4 linked regions of the Homo sapiens genome follow. The protein of the gene in region 1 purifies or fractionates together with the protein of each later gene. This does not show direct contact. Each region holds a gene or a part of one and is shown in the gene's direction. Other genes may lie near its edges.

Evidence for each region.
Region 2: the proteins of LIN28A (region 1) and PURA purify together in Homo sapiens (affinity purification with mass spectrometry; 3 studies listed by BioGRID and IntAct, with this or other methods). This does not show direct contact.
Region 3: the proteins of LIN28A (region 1) and ZC3HAV1 purify together in Homo sapiens (affinity purification with mass spectrometry; 3 studies listed by BioGRID and IntAct, with this or other methods). This does not show direct contact.
Region 4: the proteins of LIN28A (region 1) and RSBN1 purify together in Homo sapiens (co-immunoprecipitation; 3 studies listed by BioGRID and IntAct, with this or other methods). This does not show direct contact.

Annotation. Positions count from the first base shown.
Region 1 is NC_000001.11:26,420,817-26,424,316, forward strand, and holds part of LIN28A (protein lin-28 homolog A), read left to right. Parts: intron 1-3,500. UniProt on the Homo sapiens protein: RNA-binding protein that inhibits processing of pre-let-7 miRNAs and regulates translation of mRNAs that control developmental timing, pluripotency and metabolism.
Region 2 is NC_000005.10:140,120,651-140,124,150, forward strand, and holds part of PURA (transcriptional activator protein Pur-alpha), read left to right. Parts: 3' UTR 1-3,500. UniProt on the Homo sapiens protein: This is a probable transcription activator that specifically binds the purine-rich single strand of the PUR element located upstream of the MYC gene. May play a role in the initiation of DNA replication and in recombination.
Region 3 is NC_000007.14:139,078,721-139,082,220, reverse strand, and holds part of ZC3HAV1 (zinc finger CCCH-type antiviral protein 1), read left to right. Parts: intron 1-1,977; coding exon 1,978-2,751; coding exon of another isoform or gene 2,752-3,117; intron 3,118-3,500.
Region 4 is NC_000001.11:113,798,977-113,802,476, reverse strand, and holds part of RSBN1 (lysine-specific demethylase 9), read left to right. Parts: intron 1-3,500. UniProt on the Homo sapiens protein: Histone demethylase that specifically demethylates dimethylated 'Lys-20' of histone H4 (H4K20me2), thereby modulating chromosome architecture.

The DNA of each region.
Region 1 (3,500 bases):
ACATATTTGACACTGTTGTTTTACTATAATAGATGAAGCTGTAATGAAGTCTATTCTGGGTAGGGTCTGAGATGCTGTCACCTCCGCTAATGTCAAGTTGGTGGTGCAGTAAGTGGCATGATAGAATGAGCTCTGAGCTTTAAATCAGGAACTCTGGGTTCATCTGACCCTGGCTTTGCTACAGAACTAGCTGTATCAACAACTACTTTTTTTTTTTTTCTTGATGGCTGCTGGCTGTTTGCTAACTGCTTTATAAATATCAGTGTCCTTAAATTTTGGTACAAACGTGCAGTGTTCTAATAGGATTATTCCATACATATTGTTCTAAATCTTGCTTTTTGTTTTTTCTTTTAACAATATTATTTGGTGATCTTTCTCAGCTGAATGATTAAAAATCTGCCTCCTGTTTCATTAATTCATTCAAAAATGTGCTAGGCATTATTTCAGGTACCAAAATGTGGCTGTGAACAAACCAAAGACTTTACGTTGTTCTTAATGGCTGCGTGGTATTCATTATTATAGATGTACCATATTTATTCAACCATTCCCCTTCAAATACACCAGTAGGTTATTTCCAATTTTTTTAAAGCAACAATGAGATACTGAGTATATGTGTCGTGCTAAGACTTCCTACTGATAATCTACTTATATTATGTTGTGTAATTCTTTTTTCTTAGTGATTTATGGTATATTTTTGTAGTTTTACCAGTCTGATTATCTGTCTTAACTTTTCAGTATTTTTCTTAACAATGAGGTGTTTAAATCCTCTGAAATGTATTTTGCATATGTATCATACAAAGTCTGTAGGAATATGACTTCCTTTCCCAATGGATTATTAATTTTTATAGCAGCATTTATTGAATTATTTTTCTTACCTATTGATTTCTCCATATATTCTCAGATCTCTGTGATTTTCCATTTTAATCCTCTGATCCATCTGCTTGGGTTATACTGTCTTTCGGTAACATTATTTTGATATAATTTCAAACTTTAAAAAGGCTGCAAGAACAATACCCAACACTCCCACATAACCTCTACCCAGATTCATTGACTCTTAACATTTTGCCCCATTTGCTTTATCATTCTCTATCTTGCTACAGATAGTTTTTTTTTTGAAACCATAAGTTGGAGACAGTAAGCACTTTTATCTCTAAATATTTCAGTGCGTATTTCCCAAGAATGGGAATATTTATCTTTTTTTTTTTTTTCTGAGACAGGGTCTCACTCTGTCACCCAGCCTGGAGCACAGTTGTGTGATCTCTGCTCACTGCAACCTCTGCCTCCTGGGCTCAAGGGATCCTCCCACCTCAGCCTCCCCAGTAGTTGGGACTACAGGTGTGTACCACTGTGCCTGGCTCATTTTTGTATTATTTTGTAGAGATGGGTTTTTGCCATATTGCCCAAGCTGGTCTCGAATTCCTGGGCTCAAGCAATCCGCCCATCTTGGCCTCCCAAAGTGCTGGGGATTATAGGCATCAGCCACTGTGCCTGGCTGGGAATATCAATCTTACATCGTTTCAGTACACTAATCATAATCAGGAAATTAAACACTGGTACATTTATCTATATACCATATGCAAATTTTGTCAATTGTCCTATTTTTTTTTTTTTTTTCCTGTTTCAAGATCCAATCTGGAATCTTGGATTTCATTGAACTGTTCAGTTCTTCAGGCTTTGTCTTTTTATGACCTTGACATTTTTGAAGTCCTGTTTTATAGGAATGTCCCTCAGTTTGGGTTTGTCTGATGTTCCCTCAAGGTTAGATTCAGGATGTGCATTTTTAAAGTCATAAGTCCTTAGTGCATCATATTAGAAGATATGTGTGTCCCATTGTAGGCAAAGCTAAACTCAAAGAACTTGACTAGGGTATTATCTGCCAGTTTTCTCCACTGTAAACTTGCTGTTTTTCCCTTTGTAGTTGCTACACTGCTGATTATATCCAATTTAAATTGTAATATCTGGTATTCTTGGCAATTTATATTTTCCCATAGCCTTTAGAATCACTCAATCTTCCAATCCAAGATCGTGGTATGTTTTTGCATTTTTTCCTTTAATATATTTGAGTTTTTTCTTCATATAGGCTTTTTACCTTGTTAAATGTATTCTGAGGGTTTTGGTGTTTTTGTTTGTTTCTGAGAGAGGGTCTTACTCTGTCGCCCAGGCTGGAATGCAGTGGCATAATCTTGGCTCACTACAACCTCCGCCTCATGGGCTCAAGTGATGCTCCCACCTCTGCTGGGATTACAGGGGTGAGCCAGACAGAGTCTCGCTCCATCACCCAGGCTGGAGTACAGTGGTGCCATCTCTGCAACCTCTGCCTCCCGGGTTCAAACAATTGCCTCAGCCTCTCGAGTAGCTGAGATTACAGGTCTGCGCACCATACCCAGCTAATTTTTGTGTTTTTTGTAGAAATGGCATTTCGTCACGTAGGCCAGGCTGGTGTTGAACTCCTGGATTCATGTGATCTGCCCACCTCAGCCTCCCCAAAGTGCTGGGATTACAGACAGGCATGAGCCACTGTGCCTGGCCTATTCTGTTTGTTTGGTTTTTTAACATGTTTTGCAGCCATTATTATGATTTCCTTTTTTTTCTTTTTCTTTTTTTTTTTTTTTTTTTTTTTGTTGTTGTTGTTGCCCAGGCTAGAGTAGAATGGCGCAATCTTGGCTCACCGCAACCTCCGCCTCCCGGGTTCAAGTGATTCTCCTACCTCAGCCTCCCAAGTAGCTGGGATTATAGATGCCCACCACCACGCCTGGCTAATTTTGTATTTTTAGTAGTAGAGACAGGGTTTCTCCATGTTGGTCAGGCTGGTCTCAAACTCCTGACCTCAGGTGATATGCCCGCCTCGGCTTCCCAAAGTGCTGGGATTACAGGCATGAGCCATTGCGCACGGCCCATTAGTATTATTTCTTAAATCATTGAGCATCTTGAGTTTGTTTTTTTGTTTGTTGGTTTGTTTGTTTTGCGACGGAGTCTTGCTCTGTCACCCAGGCTGGAGTACAGTGGCGCGATCTCAGCTCACTGCAAGCTCTGCCTCCCAGGTTCATGCCATTCTCCTGCCTCAGCCTCCGGAGTAGCTGGGACTACAGGCACCCGCCACCACGCCTGGCTAATTTTTTGTATTTTTAGTAGAGACGGGGTTTCACCGTGTTAGCCAGGATGGTCTCGATCTCCTGACCTCGTGATCCCCTGCCTTTGCCTCCCAAAGTGCTGGGATTACAGGCGTGAGGCAGCGCACCCGGCCTTTTTTTTTTTCTTTTTTAAATAAGGCATATCATATTGCTTTGATTATAAAAATACCACTTGATTTTGTATTTTTTCCAGTATTCTACTTATTTGGTCTTTTGATGATGGTATAAATACTAAGTGAGGCATTATGTGAAAAATGAATATTTCAGTGCTTCATAGCGTGACATTTTATTTTTATTTTATTTATTTATTTCTTTGAGATGGAGTCTTGCTCTGTCAACCAGGCTAGAGTACAGTGGCATGATGGCTCA
Region 2 (3,500 bases), on another chromosome or scaffold:
GCATGAGTCAGGTAGAATTTCATGATAAAAGAACAACCAGATGAAATAAGAAATAATGATTGGTTTCAAGCCAATGAATCTGCTAAGCTAACTACCAAGTTTTGATGTTGAATGGTCCAGGCAATTTATGTCTTTAGGAAAGCTGAGTGTGGCAAAGGTCACTTGTTAACATTTTTCTTAACAAGAATGTCATAACTACTCATTCATTTTTATTTTGTCCCCACGTTTGGTATTTGTTTTGTTTTGTGTTTTTCCTTCCTGATGTCCTTTGCTTTTGTGGAAGATTGTCCTGTTGATAGGCAGAAACATGGTGGTGATCCTCTATGTAAAATATAGTTGCTTCTTACACATCAGAAGTATTTCACTCATTTTGGAATCACAGGATTTTCATGTTTTCATAAATACACACATTGTTTTGATAATTATTAGCAATTAGCTTATTTTGTAGCATTAGATGGAAAAATGTTTAAGCTAAAGAGTTTAATTTTCTTGATTTTGGTTCCACTTTAATAATTCAAGAGGCCTCCAAGTTCAAGGACCAAGTCCTTCTATTTTAGAATTGTGAAAAACATGGAAATACTCTTGTTAGTGTGTGTTTTGGTCTAAGGTAGATTATTAACACAGAAGGATCCTAGGAGGATTTAAGAAAATATGTCCTTATCGTGAAGTGGCAGTTAAAGTTATGGGACAGGTGAATTACCTATTCATCTTGACTAGCTCAAACAATGATAGCCATCAGCTAATGACTTATCAGACACATGTTGAGTTTGGGTCAAACTCCCATTCAGCTGGAGTGGATTGGCAATTTTAAATGCAGGTAGTTGGTGGTGGTACTTGACCTACCTCCTTACCATGTACATCTGGCATCTTCTCTCTCCTATCCTTTTTCTTTGTTTCTCTCTCCACTTTTACTCTTGCTGTAGGCCTACCAGTGGCACTCAAGCTTACTTCTTCAGAGAGAAGTAAAGAAATTTCTGACTCCTGCCTTAGAACATAGCTAACTGATGATCCAGAACAATTTCAGTATTATGAGGTAACTGGGCAGTTTTTTTCTGATTGCTATTTTCCCCATAGTCTTAAGCTGGCAGTTTGAAGGTATCTAAATTAATGTTAAGAAACTTGTGAACTGAAGAGAGTAAGAAGTATGTGTATTTTAGGTAAGTTACTGGGAACTGAGACTTACTGGTTTGGAAATTGGAGAGTAGGACGAGGAGAGCTGTTTAATGTGTTTGTGGATGGGGGTTTGAGAGGTATATAGAGAATGGTTTGGAAATAAAGTGAGAGGAATTTTTACTAGAGGTAGGAAAAGGTACTATGATGGAGTCCGAATGAGAGTTATTTGCTAAGGAAATGAAGTTGATCTTCACTAAGGAAGTTTCAATAAAGCCAGAGAAAATGGGTCCCTCATTGATTATGAGAAAGCTGTTAGTTACTATAGCTAGAGTTATGATAATGATCATGCATTATACAAGTCTGTTTTCATGTATAGGATGTCTGCTTTTCTGGGACAAATTAGCACAATTGTGGAATGACAGCTTTTCTGGTCAAGGCAAGTGGATGCTGGGGAGTTATTATTTTGAGGAAAAGAAAATTTCAAGCTTTTCACCATTATTCTTTTTAAACTATCAGAAATATTTATCACACATACTATCTATTTTCTTGGGCTCTTGTTACAATGTAGTTTACCTTTACTTTTCAAATGGTCCTTAGATCAAATTATTTGATTTTGTACTCCACAAAGACACATATTATTCCTTGCTTTTATAGAATTTTGAGACTTTGGCCCACACAAATTTCTTAGAAGACAATAAACCAGGTAAAAACACTAACTTGCAATTTTAGGTGTCTTTTTTATTTCTTTTACATTTGCATCCGTAGCAACCATTTAACCTTGTAGACCTTATGAGGCCCTCAATAATACTGTATTTCTAAAATTAGACAACATACCCCCCAAACTCATGTTTCTGTTTCCCTACTTTCTCTCTTACTTTAAAATTGTAGTATTCCCAAGAGTTCAGTGGTGGCAAATGTTAATAAAATAAGTTAGTACATTTTGGAGGTTCTTATATCCTTTGTAGGGTAAGCTGATAGTGTTTAGATTTCTGTTCCCATTATTCCAGTAGTGTTTTAAATTATTTAAGATAAATAATTACTGTAATGTTTGTTTTTAAGTTACATAATTCAAGTATGTTTGGATTAACTCTTTGTTGTCAAATTTAGTATGGATTTATTCCTGGTGATTTGGACAGATTACTTTGAAGTTTCATTTTACTCACATCTCTATATATTAGTGATAAAAATCTCTTTTAAAAATAGCAAAAAAGTGGTTCTGATTTTGTACTTTGAAGGTAATTTTTCTTTTTTACGAATGTCAGGTTCATTAACAATAGCAGGATTATTTTTACTATAGCTTATTTTGTAGAGTTGGCACTTTAGTATAATTTTCACATTTTATTGTGTCAGATTTTAAATTATAATAGTTATATACTATAACTCATTTAAGTCAATGCAAAGCCTTCTTAAATAGCCCCTCCCTTAGAAATTTGTTTAAAAAGAAGTGAATTCCCAAACCTGTGTCAAGAACTTGTGATTTAAATGACTGTGAGACAAGTCCTTGAAAGGCTTAAGTCTAGTCAGTGGAGATAAATGATAGCCCATTTCCATGCTGCATATAGTTGTTAGGGTTTATAAAGTTGTCAATGTGTAAAAGTGCAAAAGCAGGAAAGACTAAAGTTGCCTGTAAAATTTCTAGTTTTCATTATTTGCACTATTTATCTTTGCACTTGATTTTTTGAAAGTTAAGGCTAGTCACTTTCACTTTTGTTTCTAGTCTTTTCTAATTTCTTGCAGAATTGTGTTTTCAATATTCCACCCAAAGCAAAAATTATATGCAATTAAAAATATTTTATAAGGCCAAGAAAATATTTCTTAATGTTAGCTGTATAAAACAAAAATTTGTTCTGATAAAATTTTTAATATGGGCCTTTATTTGCCAATAAAATCCTTTGTAAATGTGAGCTTTATTAAACTGTTTAAATAGACAAAGTTAAAGCTTAGGATAGGGAATATATATGTATGTGTATATGAAATGATGTCTTCGAGTTTTAACTTCCAGCCTGAGATGGCCTAGATTTGGTGTGTTAGTTTGTTTCACTGAAGTCAGTGAGATAGGAGTCTAGCTGGGTACATGCTTAAAAAGCTGGAAGTGAAGTGGGTGGCAAGTGGCAGCTCCCTCTTTCATGTAGTTTTCCATAATGTTCATATAGTTTCCTTATGGTCTAAGTGTTACAACTGGTTTTCAAGTTGTTATATTGAATATTCCTTTTTGGAATTCAGGGTTGAATCACTTTGAGGGGGAAGGGAAGCAAGGGCAAGAGACTTTATTTTAACCAGATGCGGTCTTATGACCTCAAAGATGTGCTCTAGAAAGAAAATAACAAAAAGTGTACCTGTGAACATATTTTTTGTCTTGGTGATATTATGCAACACAGTGTTCAGAA
Region 3 (3,500 bases), on another chromosome or scaffold:
CTCGGCTCACTGCAATGGCCGGCCGCCTCCTGGGTTCAAGTGATTCTTCTGCTTCAGTCTCCCAAGTAGCTGGGATTACAGGTGCCTGCCACCACTCCCAGCTAATTTTTGTATTTTTAGTAGAGACGGGTTTTCATCATGTTGGCCAGGCTGGTCTTGAACTCCTGACCTCAAGTGATCCACCCACCTTAGCCTCCCAAAGTGCTGGGATTACAGGCGTAAGCCACCATGCCCAGCCAAGTGCTGCTATTTCTGAAGCATTTTCATATTATATAATGGCATTCATTTTTAATGTCTTTATGAAGTGGATGTAGGAAAGATGAATTTTATGAAGCAGATAGAATACATGATTCTAGGATTCTGTGCAAATTAATGAACAATTAAACCTCCTTATATTTGGGAAATGGTTTATCATTTACAAGGGACTTTCATCCCAAATAAATATTTCATCATTGTTCCTCACAGTGAAACCACAAAGAAAGGTAGATATGTCATTTTTTAGCCTTACTTAAGAGGGTAAAGAAACTGAGGCTCAGAAATAGTAAGCAATGTTTATTGCAAGCAGCCTCAGCTCATTTTTAGAAGAATGAAGGATAATGTAATGAAGAAATAAAAGGTAACATTTTCAAGGCCTCACATCACTAGAAAGTAGCAGAGTGCATGTTCTGATCCCATATCTAATGCTTTTTCTCTCTCACTACAGTTCCCTCTGAACAGAGGAATGTCTGGAGGGATGGGTTTTGGTGGTAGCTTCTCAATGTAAACTTATTGTGAATGAGAAAGATCTGTATATATTTTCACTTCCAGTTAATCTCCTGAGTTAAGCCTTTTCTTGACAGGAGGAGGGTGTTTGCTTTTACTACATAACTACTGCCCCCTGGGTTTGGAAGAGAAAAAAAATGTCTCTTCTACCCCTTCCCCACACAAAAAAGCACAATTCACACACACACACGAGCACACATGCACACCTCACATTCACACACCACACGTGCACATGTGCCTCAAACACAGACATGCACATCTTCCACATGTACCCCCGGCACACAAACACACCCCACATAAACATCACGTGCATGCACGCCACACACACTCCACACGCGCTCACAAACACACCCTAACTCCTTCCTTCCTCCCTGCTTCCAGAAGGGTGTGACCTATCAAGTTTCTAGAGGAAGGCCAATTCCCTGCAGGCCACACTGCTTTGTCGATGTTGACTTCTGATATACTTTGGCCTTATGGAGTGAGATGAAGAAAACTGGAAAAATTTCCAGCTTAAACAAAGTCAGGCCTTTAGACTGTGGTTTCATTTTCTGTTGGTTTCTTTGAGCATTGTGAATCTGTCAATAGCCAGGTACACCCGTATCACGATATGGGCAAAATCGAATGCTTTCTGGAAAATCTTCTCTGATTTGCCCTAATCTATCTCTCCATTGACCCCAGTGATGAACGTTGACTCAGGACCAGGAGATAGTGGACAGCCCCACCTAAAAGTTTTGGGGTTTGGGGGCTACTTTGAGTCCCAGAAGAGAGCCGGGGACTGTCATCCTAGAGCTGATCCTCACTGTCATCCTAGGCCATGGAATGACGTGCTCTGCCGTGCAGGCAGAATGTCAAGATTCTTTCATCAGCTGACACAGTTGGTGAGCACCTGTAGTCTCAGCTACTCAGGAGGCTCAGGTGGGAGGATCGCTGGAGCCCAGGAGTTCGAGCTTGCAGTGAGCTGTGGTCGGGCCACTGCATTCCAGCCTGGGCAACAGAGCAACACTCCATCTCTTAAAACAAAAACAAAAACAAAAAAAACCGTCAGTGTCAAACCACCCATCTTCAAGATTTTTACACATCAGATTACGCCAAGTAATTTGATAGCACTTGGATAGCAAAGCTACAAAAGTGAAGAGGAGGAAGGGTGGTAGGAACTCAGTCACATTAACTCCAATGTTCATTATTTTGTTTCATTTTGGCTTTTTTTCCCCTTAGCTCCTTCTTCACATCGTAGAAACATGGCATATAGGGCTAGAAGCAAGAGTAGAGATCGGTTCTTTCAGGGCAGCCAAGAATTTCTTGCGTCTGCTTCAGCGTCTGCTGAGAGGTCCTGCACACCTAGTCCAGATCAGATCAGCCACAGGGCTTCCCTGGAGGACGCGCCTGTGGACGATCTCACCCGCAAGTTCACGTATCTGGGGAGTCAGGATCGCGCTCGGCCTCCCTCAGGCTCGTCCAAGGCTACTGATCTTGGAGGAACAAGTCAGGCCGGGACAAGCCAGAGGTTTTTAGAGAACGGCAGTCAAGAGGACCTCTTGCATGGAAATCCAGGCAGCACTTACCTTGCTTCCAATTCAACATCAGCCCCCAACTGGAAGAGCCTCACATCCTGGACGAATGACCAAGGCGCCAGGAGAAAGACTGTGTTTTCTCCCACGCTACCTGCCGCCCGCTCTTCTCTTGGCTCTCTGCAAACACCTGAAGCTGTGACCACCAGAAAGGGCACAGGCTTGCTTTCCTCAGACTACAGGATCATCAATGGCAAAAGTGGAACTCAGGACATCCAGCCTGGCCCTCTTTTTAATAATAATGCTGATGGAGTGGCCACAGATATAACTTCTACCAGATCCTTAAATTACAAAAGCACTAGCAGCGGTCACAGAGAAATATCATCACCTAGGATTCAGGATGCTGGACCTGCTTCCCGAGATGTCCAGGCCACTGGCAGAATCGCAGATGATGCTGACCCAAGAGTAGCACTTGTTAACGGTAAATACAAAGGGAAGACACTTTGGGCTAGTACATTTGTTCATGATATACCAAATGGCTCTAGTCAAGTAGTGGATAAAACTACTGATGTAGAAAAAACTGGTGCCACTGGTTTTGGCTTAACAATGGCAGTCAAGGCAGAAAAAGATATGTTACGTACTGGAAGTCAGAGTCTGAGGAACCTGGTCCCCACCACACCTGGGGAATCCACTGCCCCTGCACAAGTCAGCACTCTGCCTCAGTCACCTGCTGCCCTTTCCTCAAGCAACAGAGCTGCAGTCTGGGGGGCCCAAGGGCAGAACTGCACCCAGGTTCCTGTTTCCTCTGCCAGCGAGCTCACAAGGAAGACAACAGGCTCTGCTCAGTGTAAGTCACTGAAGGACAAAGGGGCCTCTGTGTCTTGAGTCTGCAGCAGAGTGGCTATGGCTGGTGGTTTTTCCTTGGATGTTCCCCAGTTCTTAAAGGGTAGAGAGTTAGAGGGTTTTGGTTATGGGGTGGTCTGGTGAGGAGATTGACTAGTGAAGACAGGGAAGGGCCAACCAGTAGAACCACAGGGAATAAACTGCCACATTTATTGACAATAGGAATATTTCAACTATGATTTAAGAAATAAACATAGCTTTCACAGGACTCTGAGGTCCACATTTTTGTTTTATGGAGGGGCTGTCTAGATGCTCATGGGCAAAACATAAATCATAGGAATTTTCTTGAACATGGCCCCCATTTCAGATATTCTTTCCCATTGTGAG
Region 4 (3,500 bases), about 87 Mb from region 1:
CTGGAAGAACTCTCAAGAAGACTGAAAATAATTTATTTTCAGGAAACAACTTTAGTCCTTTAAAAAATCATGAATAATAAGATGTAAGCAATTACACTTGTTTTGCTTTTGTTCATCTACTGTGATTTTTACGAACTGAAGATACTACCTTTTTTTTTTTTTTCCGACTTCTAAGCCATAATTAGAGTATAAGAATTGCTGTTAAGACCTTAAGTTTTGTAGGCCGGGCATGGTGGCTTATGCCTGTAATCCCAGCACTTTGGGAGGCCGAGGCGGATAGATCACTTGAGGTCAGGAGTTTGAGACCAGCCTGGCCAACATAGTGAAACCCTGTCTCTACCAAAAAATACAAGAATTAGCTGGGCATGGTGATGTGCACCTGCAGTCCCAGCTACTTGGGAGGCTGAGGTGGGAGAATCACTTGAACTTGGGAGGCAGAGGTTGCAGTGAGCCGAGATTGCGCCACTGCCCTCCAGCCTGGATGAGAGTAAAACCCTATCAAAAAAAAAAAAAGAACTTAATAATATAGAAAGCTGTTTTTTTGCATTAATGAAAACTTTCAATTGTGTGAAATCAGATGACATTAATTGATAATATTGGTAGTATTAGCACATATGAGGATCTTATTAATAACGTCATGTATTAATAGTTACCTTTTTAAAGACAGCCAGCAATTTGTTTCTTAAGTGAATGTATCTTCCTCTGTAGAATTATGTATTTCTCTTTATATGTAATCACACAGTTGGATAGGTGAAAGTTTTTCTTAATCACAGGTATAGTGTAGGTTGGCTCTTTTTCTGTAAAGAACTGTAGTCAATAAATTTTAGCTTTTGCACTATGGGGAAATACTAAAAATGTGCTGAATAGATTCTCTGTTGGAAAGCTAAAACCAGAAATAGAAAAGTTGTGAAGAAGACTTTGGACACTGACTTTCAAATAACGTTTTAAATTCAAGGCAGGGCAATTGTTATTTTTCTCATAAAGCAACAGTGGCCAGTGTTTGATAATAACCTTTGATAACTTGTTTATACATATGCCATTCTCAATTAGTTGCCACCACGGTAATTCAATAATAAATTTTGTTTACTCATGGAGATTTGTTAGCCAGTATGAAATGGGTAGTCTTAAATTTCTCTGTAAAAAAAGTCAAGCTTTCTGTATCTTACCCTAAGTTAGATAAAAGTCAAAAGCTGAGGCCGGGCGTCGTGGCTCACGCTTGTAATCCCAGCACTTTGGGAGGCTGAGGTGGGTGGATCACTTGAGGTCAGGAGTTTGAGACCAGCCTGGCCAACATGGTGAAACCCTGTCTCTACTAAAAATACAAAAAATTAGCCGGGTGTGGTGGTACATGCCTGTGATCCCAGCTACTCAGAAGGCCGAGAGGCAGGAGACTCTCTGGAACCTGGGAGGTGGAGGCTGGAGTGAGCAGAGATCACGCCACTGCACTCCATCCTGGGCAACAGAGAGAGACTCTGTCTCAAAAAAAAAAAAAATTGAAAAACAGGATTAGTGAGAAGATAGATTGAAATTTACTTCATATTTAAAATTTTTATCATGTTGATTTATGAGATTACAATGTAAGATTCTTTTCTTTATACAGTGGTTTTCTCTTTTTTTGTTTTTTTTGTTGTTTTTTTTTGAGATGGGCCATGTTGGACTAATTGAATGGTTTTCATATAAGTGAATTTTGTGAAACTCGTATAAGTGAAACCCACAGAGACTTGACCAAGTTAGAAATACCACTGGAAAGTTGATAGTAATACAGAAAATGTGTTACAATCAACGCAGTTCTTTCTTGGTGCTAATTTCAGTGGCAGATCTAGGTCACAATTCATTTTCTGCATACCAAATACCTCTTCCGAAGCTTAAAATAACAAGATCTATTTGGAGATATTTTCTTTTCTTGTTTTCCTGTGAAATTGCTAAAACATTAATAGAAGAGAGTAATTAGATGACTATTTTTAAATTGGTCTAACCTTTATATTGAATGGCATTAACATTTAGTTGCTTGGGAGAATTGCCTAAATTACTGATTTGATATTGGGGAAAGTATTTAGATGAATTTTATTTGGTAAGAAGTATACTTCTTACCAAATAAATGACTATTACTAAGTGTTTAATTCTCAAATATCTCAAATATTTAGTTGTATATAGAATAAAAGATGACTTTTTCTCTTGCCAGGTTAACAGTATTCTGATTAAATGTAAATTTTGCTATCTTATTACAGTTTAATTACAAGTGATATTTGCAAATAAACGGTTTTCATTTTATTGTTCTTAGAAGGAAATATTATTTGGCATTAGTAAAGTCTTTGACTTGCTTTTTTAAGTATTTTCTTTAGAAGGTTTCGTAACCCTTGTAGTAGCTAATTGACTTGAAGTGATTTTATATGGAGTATTGGAACTGTCATATATTTACATATTGTACCAAGTAAATTCTTAACTCTAAAATTTGTTGAACTTGTTTTTCTAGATGTAAAAATAGGATTAATTGGAATATTTGTCTTAACTCCAAATTACTTCAATTATGTTAGAAAAAACGATTGTTTGGTGGGTAAATTCTATGCAGTAAATACTAGACCAAACTTGAAGGTTCGTCAGGACTCTACCTGGTATTTAATCCTGAAAGTTTCCTGCTAGGTATATTTTCCAATTAGTAAACAAAAGATGCCATTCCATCTTGGGCTTGTCAATCCATGATAATCCTTTAAAACTTAAAAATAAGTTTTTAAATTATAAAAGTAATATGTTTATTTTAGAAAATTAGAAAATACAGATAAGCAGAAAAGCTAGACATTTAGAATTCTACCACCAATAGATAACTACCATTAATAGCTTGGTATATATTTCTCCAGATATTTTTCTGTGTGTGTGTGTGTGTGTGTGTGTGTGTGTGTGTGTGTGTGTGTGTAAAGCATCTATAGATCAGACAGACTTCTTCATCTCTTTAGGTCCTTTTCTTCTTTCTGGGAATATTTTCTCCTAGACCTTTACATGCCTGGCTTGTCTTATTCTTTAGGAATCACTCTTAATGTTACCTCCCCAAAAGAGCTTCCCCCAAACTTAATGCATCCCACTTATCACTATCTGGTACTTTCTTTTTCTTGTACAATTAGATCATAAGACCCAAGAGATGCCAGGCACCATGGGTCACACCTGTAATCCCAGAACTTAGGGAGGTAGAGGCAGGAGTATAGCTTGAGCCCTGCCTGGGCAACATATGGAGACTCCATACTCCTCAAAAAGCGGGGAGAAAAAGATCCAAGAGATTGGGGATTGTGTATGTCCTAGTCAGCATTATGGTCCTAGCACTTAGTAGGTACTTAAATGTTTGGATGAATTAATGTTTATATAAAAATGGGATCAGAATGTACATGTGTTAAGTGCTCAGGAGAGAAAGGTAAGGTATACATCACTGAACTTAGATTGCTGACAGTCTAGGGGAGGGTGTAAAATGAAATGTTAATAACACAGAGTATAAGTGCTGAGATGGGGATACA